Linked DNA regions of Homo sapiens. The protein of the gene in region 2 interacts with the protein of the main gene of each other region in a biochemical or structural test. Each region holds a gene or a part of one and is shown on either strand. Other genes may lie near its edges.

Region 1 (2,471 bases), on a different chromosome or scaffold from region 2:
ATGGGAGTCTCATGACATAATAGACACAGCACAGGGCCTATTACTGAGGATGTGAACATTTTATGACCTCTTTTCCAGGAAAGAGAATTAACAAAAGGGAGGGAAGGATTTTTGAAGTTTGGGTAAGAATCTATAGCTCCTTTCAACTCTCTCAATTTCCCACTGCTCTATCATCTCTCAAACAGGCGGGTAACTGGAAATAAAAGAATGGCTCTGGAAGGTGAACTCTATCCCTTGAAAATTGATTGAGAATCTGCAAGCAAATCACTTAATCTGTTTTGCAGTCTCTGAAGCTAAGATTGCCTTGGTTCTATGAGTAGAGCCAAGCAGAGCAGTGGCATGAACTAAAGAATAAACAATATTCAGTTTGTACTTTCTTTCCCAGAGTTCACTGGCACAGGAGGGATTAAAGACTCAGTATGAGTATTTTTCTAAAGTCACCCTACACCCTGATGTTTCTCATAGCATGTCTCTGGATCATTAATGTGTTTCCAAGCAAATAGTTTCATATGGAGCGTTTATTTACCCTTATTATTAAGATGCGTGTGTTTCACTGGAAGCATTAGCTTTGAGGCCTATCAAGCACATGATAGAAACAGGCATGCAAAAGGAAGGAGTATTCTGTCCAGGGAGCATGAGCAGGCAAGCTCACCATTGGAAATAGTGATGAAATAACAGGGAAATACAACTGAAAAACACACTCAAAAATGTATTACATAAAATAATTTACTTCTCATTCAGCGTGACCTTCCAGACCTATTAGTAAGACAGCAGTCTGTGAGTTCAGATACAATCTGAAAGTCATGACAATTATAATAGGGCAAGACCAATAAAGTTACACATTTGAAGTCAACTAGAGACAAAATTGTGGAACTGTGTATAACAGAAAATGACACTGATGAGGAACTCCAGGGATATTAAGGGCAAGATTGCCAGAGAGACAAGAAGGGTACAATTAGAAAACCTGCATCTTTAATACAGTGAGATTTGTATGCATACACTCTGGTGTCTTCATTTTGCAGCCCATTATATTGGCTTAAAAGCCAGAAAGGTGCTCATGCATGTAATTTATACTGGAGCAACGAATGCAGTGTATGTGGACGCGTGTGTGTGCACTTTGAAAGGCAGTAGTTTTAGAAGAATGAGAAGAAAATTACTTCCTGGGCATTCATTAATAATTCAGGTGATATCCTGTACCTCCATTTATAAAACAATATAATAATAATAACACGTACAAAATAACATCATAAATAACATAAATGAGAAGTTTTCAAGTATTTCAATGTGCCTTGAAAAGTTTCAAACAGTAATTCTCACAATTGGTTAGACAATCATTTTTTTTTTCTTTTCTTTTCCTCTCATTTAGTCTCAGAGCCTAAAAAGAAATGCCTCCAGTCTCTGTTAGCCCCGATGTTTGGAATGAAATTAACAAGATTCTACCTTAAAAGAGAAAACTTATGTGGGCTTTTCAAATTGTGAAAATTTGTTCCCTCTTATAAAATATAATCTTTCCCCTGCTGCTGGTTTATAAATATAGGCATATAGCCCAGAGCCATTATAAAGAAAAAACAACCAACCACAATAAACTAAGGAGCCTCATCTGATGGCTAAGGTTCTCAGGAAAAAATGAGAAGAGCACCTTGATCAGGAAAGGAAAAAAGGATAGAGGATAAAAACAGTAACCTTTAACTTCTATGCCCTCACTCAGCCAGTAACTTACGGCAGGTGTTGCTGGCAAGGCCTTAGCTGTATTTCTTCATTAAGTTGAACATCCTGTCTGCCAACTCCATACCAACCCAGCTGCTAATAAGCATGCCCTGAGCACCCAGGAAAAGAAGGGAAGGCTGGCAGCTTAGGAGCTCAAAAGTGCCATCAGAGAAAACCAGCTCAAGGGAGCTAAGGTATTTGCTCCTTAGAATAGTGCTCAAGGTGGAGGCTGTCAGTGGTCAAATCAAGCATGAAGTTCCTTGGATGCTTCTCCAGCAAGATCCATGGAATTTTACAAAACCAACTTTCCACAGGTTAGCATTTCTTTCTTAGCCTACATGGCAGTTAGTTCATTTTGCCCTGTTCAAATGTAGTATGAAAGAACAGAGATCAAAACACCCATGTAAGTACATACACATACTCTAGTTATGAGCACCTAGGGTCTTTCCCATCACTCTTGCAAAAGTGTGTGTGTGTGTGTGTGTGTGTGTGTATACATACACTCACACATACATATGTATACACAGACATCTATATACAGAAATAATGTATATGTGTGTCTAATGTATATATAATATATACACATAGACATACACACAAGCACATATCATAGCTCAACCTCATCTAAACATCTAGAGTCTGGAGAACGTGCTGGCCAACAGAATACATGTGCATGTGGATGTCATGTGACATGCACTAACCAACCATCCCGAGGTAAAACTGTTGGGAGGAGGAAACTGCCAACAATCTTTGAAAATCCAGAC
Region 2 (5,497 bases):
CAGGCAGGCCGCATCCTACGTGTGCAGCAAGGGTCTGTGCGTGTGGACGGCCAGGCATACAACCTGTGCATGCATGTGCATAATATGACAATGTTTGTGGCTGCCCATACATGCCAGATGTGCAAAGGGGTACCCCACTGTGTGAAGGAGGATGCCCATGTACACATGTTCAGGGGTACATGCTTGAGTGTGTTAAGGGCTTCATGTGTGCACACACAACTATACAAGCCTAAGTGAGGCACCAGCCCCTGCCAGTGTTCCAAGGTTACACTTCTGTCCAGTGGGGGGCGCCTGAGGGCCACCTGGTCACCATAGGCTACTTGGGACAAGAAGCAACCCTCTGGAGGCCCTATCCCCACAGTCCCCACACCTGTGTACTCAGGGAAGCAGATGGTCAGGGGACTGTGTGTGATCTTCTCCTCAAACAGGTCCTTCTTGTTGAGGAAGAGGATGATGGACGTGTCTGTGAACCACTTGTTGTTGCAGATGCTATCGAATAGCTTCATGCTCTCATGCATGCGGTTCTGGGGGTAGAATAGCAAGGTCAACGCTAGCCACCACTCCCCAAGCCCGCTGCCCCCACCCGCAGCATTCTCTCATCCTCTCACCATCTCCTCGTCCTCAGCTAGCACCAAGTCATAGGCGCTCAAGGCTACGCAGAAGATGATGGCTGTGACGCCCTCAAAGCAGTGGATCCACTTCTTCCGCTCAGACCGCTGACCACCCACATCAAACATCCTGCAGATATAGATCACCTTAGTTCCAGGAAGGGAGCCTGGGGGAGGCTTTCTACCCCATTTCTCAGGTTGGCTGACTGAGGACAGAGGCCTGCCCAGAGTAGGGCAGCTACCTTCTGGAATCATCCACACTTGCCCACTTCACCCCTGGTTCTGGGCCAGGAGCTTGGACAGCAGGCAGGCTGCAGCCACATCAGGCAGGAGCAGCAGAGGCTGTGAGCAGCTGGCAGAGGTGGCGTGGATCCTGACTGCTGGTTCACTAGGTGGTGAGGATGTGCTTGCCCAGAACACATGAGCCTTGTAAAACCTCAGTGGGGCTGGGGGATCCTGGACCAGCCCCTGCCTCTGCTACCCCAGAGGCTGGCAGGTCCTGCCCCTCCCACCTGTCCACATGCTCGCTCACTTGAAGTGTAGGTCCTTGAAGGTGAAGTGTGTCTCCACGATCCCCGTGGTCTTTACGCGGGTCCGTAGCACATCTTGCTGTGTGGGGATGTAGTCACTCTGTGCAATACGCTCCAGGTCGTTCAGGTAGCTGGGGATGGGGGGTGGGAGGGTCAGTGGGGGCCAGCATGGGGCTTCCTTAGCTGGACCCTGGGCCAGCTGCAAGAGGCCCCTTCCCTCCCATGCCATTTCTCAAGCACAGCCCTTGCTTTTTTTTTTTTTTTTTTTTTTTTTTTTTGAGACAGAGTGTTACTCTGTTGCCAGGCTGGAGTGCAGTGGCATGATCTTGGCTCACTGCAACCTCTGCCTGCCAGGTTCAAGCGATTCTCCTGCCTCAGCCTCCTGAGTAGCTGGGACTACAGGCGCCTGCCGCCCAGCTAATTTTTGTATTTTTAGTAGAGACGGGGTTTCACCATGTTGGCCAGGATGGTCTTGACCTCTCAACCTCAGGTGATCCGCCCACCTCGGCCTCCCAGAGTGCTGGGATTACAGGCGTGAGCCACTGCGCCTGGCCTAGGCACAGCCCTTGTTTCTTTAACCCCTGCCTGCATTACCTCATTGCTCAAATGAAGAAACCTGAACTCAGAGCCCCCGGCCTCCCACCTGTAGAATGGGAATGGGAGGAGGTGCAGCTCTGTGGACAGCTAGCCAGCCAAGCTCCAGCACCCAGGGTCTGAGCCAGACCTGCCTCGGACAGGATCCAGGATGTTGGAGCTATAGGCAAAGAGGGTGGGAGGAGGCAAATTAGTCCTTCGGTGAAGGATTCAGGATGCTAATGGGCGCAATTACGGCATTAGCCGCAGAGCAGCCGGGTGCGGTCCCTCGATGTGGTGCTGGACAGGTTGGGGCCTGCCAGGTCCAGTGGGCTCTTTGCCCAGCGCCCAATGAAATCTGGGTTCCTCAGGGGGAGGGCACAGACACCTGCTTGGCAGGGGTCCCAGGGGCTCCTCATTACCAGTTCCCTTAATTAGTATCAAGGCTACCCCTGCAGGGCCTGCCTCTGCTGCCTGCCTCAATATCCCTGCCATGCCCTGGAGGCTGGTCCCAGGCCTCCAGGCTGCTGCCCAGAGCTGACTTTTCATTCCTGGGGCAAGGCTGCTGGGGCTGGCCCTTGGCTCCCACCAGCACCCAGGCCAAACCAGGCCAGAGGGAAATGATCTCAGAGTAGCAGGGACAAAACAGAAAAACAGGAAGGGCCATGGGGAAGGATGACGCATGTGCTGTGACCCGCATACCATGCCCCGCCCCCTACTGCCAGAGTCCTCAATGTGGAGGTACCATGGTGCATTCCACACCAGCCTCTCCCTTTTCCCCAACAGGTGGGTTCGCCCCAGGGACCCCCTGACTCGCTGCACACTTGGAGGGTTGCTGCGAAGAGGGGCTGAAGGAGCCCTGCTTCCTGTGGTGTTCCAATCCGCAACCCATTCCCAGGGGGAGCTATCAAGGCTTAAACCTGACTGGGAGAACAGGGCCTGTATTCACTCCCAAAACTGTGCTGGGCACACAGTGGGTGCCTAATGTCTGGAGAATAGAGAAAGAGGATGATGGAGAAGCAGGAGGTGGCCTGGAGGTGGCTCTATTCCTGCTTCCTTTGAGTATCATGGGCACCAAGGTCCCTGCTGCTCTGACCCCAAGCTCGCTGGTGGCTGGGCCAGAGATCTCAGGGAGGGGCAGTGGTGAGGCCTGGGGGCCCCCACAGCATTTGGCTGTGACTCCACAGCTCCTGTAGGGGGTACATATTCACAAGAGCATTCAGGCCATGTAAGAAGGGTAGGAGGAGGCTGTTCATGTGGCTTGGACAGGGCTCAGGAATCACAGCCAGGCAAGACCCTCCTCCTCCTCCCACCCACCCTTGCTGAAATCCACCCTATGGGTAGGCTCAGGATTGGATGAACAATAGGAGCAAAAGGGTGTTCCAGTCAGAGGGGACTGGCTTAAGCAGAGATAGGGGAAGGCTAGAGTACAGGGACAGCAGCCTATCTGGTGACACCATCCAAAGCCTGTGGATGTCCCCTGCAGCCATCCTCAATGGCTATTAGCCTGTCTATCCTGTTCCCCGTGGGGTCCTCAGCACCCTGCACCAGTCCAAGTACATGACAGATACCACAGGGAAGGAGTTCAGAACTGTGGAAAGGGTGCAGGCTTGTCATGCCTCTGGGATTCCTGGGACCCCTTGTAATTCCTCAGCCTAGGGCCAGCGAGGGTCACAGCTGAGGTCCAGGGGCTCTGACCTACACACACACCTGTCACCTCCCAGATAACTTCCTCCCCTGTGGCCCCCTCCAGCCAGCCTCCACAGCCTATGTTCAAGCACAGCCAGCTCCCCACCACCCCGAGATGCTGCACATGCTATGCCCCTGCCTGGAATCCCCTCATCCACTCCTCCCCTGGCTGACTCTCCTTCAGAGCTCAGCAATCCTGTCTCTGGGCCAACTCCACCTCTACCTTTTCACTAACACCCTAAATTGTCACTGCATGGGGACTTTGCTCCACTCATCACTGTGTCCTTGAAGCCTGGCACAGAACAGGTGGCAGCAAATGTTCTGAGTCTTGCTCTGTCACCCAAGCTAGAGTGCAGTGGCGCAATCTCCGCTCACTGCAAGCTCCACCTCCCAGGTTCACGCCATTCTCCTGCCTCAGCCTCCTGAGTAGCTGGGACTACAGGCGCCCTCCACCACGCCCGGCTAATTTTTTGTATTTTTAGTAGAGACGGGGTTTCACCGTGTTAGCCAGGATGGTCTCGATCTCCTGATCTCACGACCCGCCTGTCTCAGCCTCCCAAAGTGCTGGGATTACAGGCGTGAGCCACCACGCCCGGCCGCAAATGTTCTTTAGAAGACTGTCAAGACAGATCAGACTCAACTGGCCTGGAAGAGATGTACTGTATAAGCCACCTGCCTGTCATTCCTCCTGGCCTTTCAGTAACGTGACACCCACCCACCCCCCAAACCAAAAAACAGGAAGGCCTTGGTTAACAGTCATCGGTTTCATAAGCAAAGACCAGCAGTGTCCTTCTGGGGGTTCTCAGGCCCTCCGGTCCAGCCTTTAGTCCTCCCCCAGCCCCTGCCCTGCCCTGCCCAGCCCCTCAGAGCACTCACTAGGCAGCTGAGTCGTTGAGCTGGTATTCCCTTGAGCGGCCAAAGCAGGCCTGCACACCATGGTCAGCCCAGAGCCTCCGGATGACGCCGGACAGGTCATCAGGGAGCACGCCTTGCTCCTCGGCGGTGCAGGACAGTGCAAATAGCTGCCTGGCGTCGTCCTGGGCACAGTGGCGGGTGGTCAGGCAGTTGAAGGAATGTACCCCCACTCTGCCAGAGGCAGGGAGACCTCTGGAATGGGGCCCAGGCTAGGGTATTCTTGGATTCCCTAGGATGAGACTTGCCCTAAAACCTTTTTGTTGTTGTTGTTTACTTTTTTCTGTGACGGAGTCTAGCTCTGTCACCAAGGCTAGAGTGCAATGGGGCGATCTTGGCTCACTGCATCCTCTGCCTCCCGGGTTCAAGCAATTCTCCTGCTTCAGCCTCCCAAGTAGCTGGGATTACAGGCACGTGCCACCATGCTCGGCTAATTTTTGTATTTTTAGTAGAGACGCGGTTTCACCAAGTTGGCCAGGCTGGTCCTGACCTCAGGTGATCCACCCGCCTCGGCGTCCCAAAGTGCTGGGATTTATAGGCATGAGCCACCACAACCAGCCACCCCGAAACCTTTTGGGAGGTGGGAGAGGGTGGGGCGGAGGGCACATACCGCTCTGGAGGGGTCGGCAAAGTCGATCTGCAGGTTGCCCATGGCTTTGACAATGGCCATGATGGACTGGATGGTGTTGCTGTAGACAACCGCCCGGTACTGCCGGCATTCCTCCTCGGAGTAGCCATCCTCGTGGATGATCCTGATAGCCAGGGACCAGGAAGGTTAGTGTCCCCTGGGCACTGGGAGTTCCCACGGCTGCCTGGGGCTACTGGGACCTGCTTCAGAGAAGGGAAAACTGCCCCTGACCCACTGGGACCTGAGGGTCCTTCTGCTTCTCAGAAGATTCTGGGCCTGGCTAAGACTGGCTGGGCCTGTAGTCGGGGGCAGTGCAGGCCCAGAGGGTGAAGAGGGGAAGCTGGAGTTTGAGCACTGCCTCTGGAATACAGCACTTACTTCATCTGCTTGACGATGGTGCTCTTCCCTGACTCCCCAGCACCTGGAACAGAGGGCACAGGTGGTCAGGGGGCAGGCCCAGAGGGGCTCCACAGGCACAGAACAAATGCCCAGACACCTGTAGCCCAGGAGGCAGAACTAACCTTCCCACCAGCTGCACCGTGAGATGGAGGCAGCTG

Evidence for each region.
Region 1: the proteins of GNAI2 (region 2) and RGS4 form a complex in vitro, tested with the Homo sapiens proteins (one study listed by BioGRID).

The regions. Positions count from the first base shown.
Region 1 is NC_000001.11:163,074,832-163,077,302, reverse strand, and holds the end of RGS4 (regulator of G-protein signaling 4), read right to left. Parts: 3' UTR 501-2,471; downstream 1-500. UniProt on the Homo sapiens protein: Inhibits signal transduction by increasing the GTPase activity of G protein alpha subunits thereby driving them into their inactive GDP-bound form. Activity on G(z)-alpha is inhibited by phosphorylation of the G-protein.
Region 2 is NC_000003.12:50,251,964-50,257,460, reverse strand, and holds part of GNAI2 (guanine nucleotide-binding protein G(i) subunit alpha-2), read right to left. Parts: intron 5,362-5,497; coding exon 5,319-5,361; intron 5,065-5,318; coding exon 4,923-5,064; intron 4,438-4,922; coding exon 4,277-4,437; intron 1,270-4,276; coding exon 1,141-1,269; intron 739-1,140; coding exon 609-738; intron 525-608; coding exon 371-524; intron 1-370. UniProt on the Homo sapiens protein: Guanine nucleotide-binding proteins (G proteins) are involved as modulators or transducers in various transmembrane signaling systems.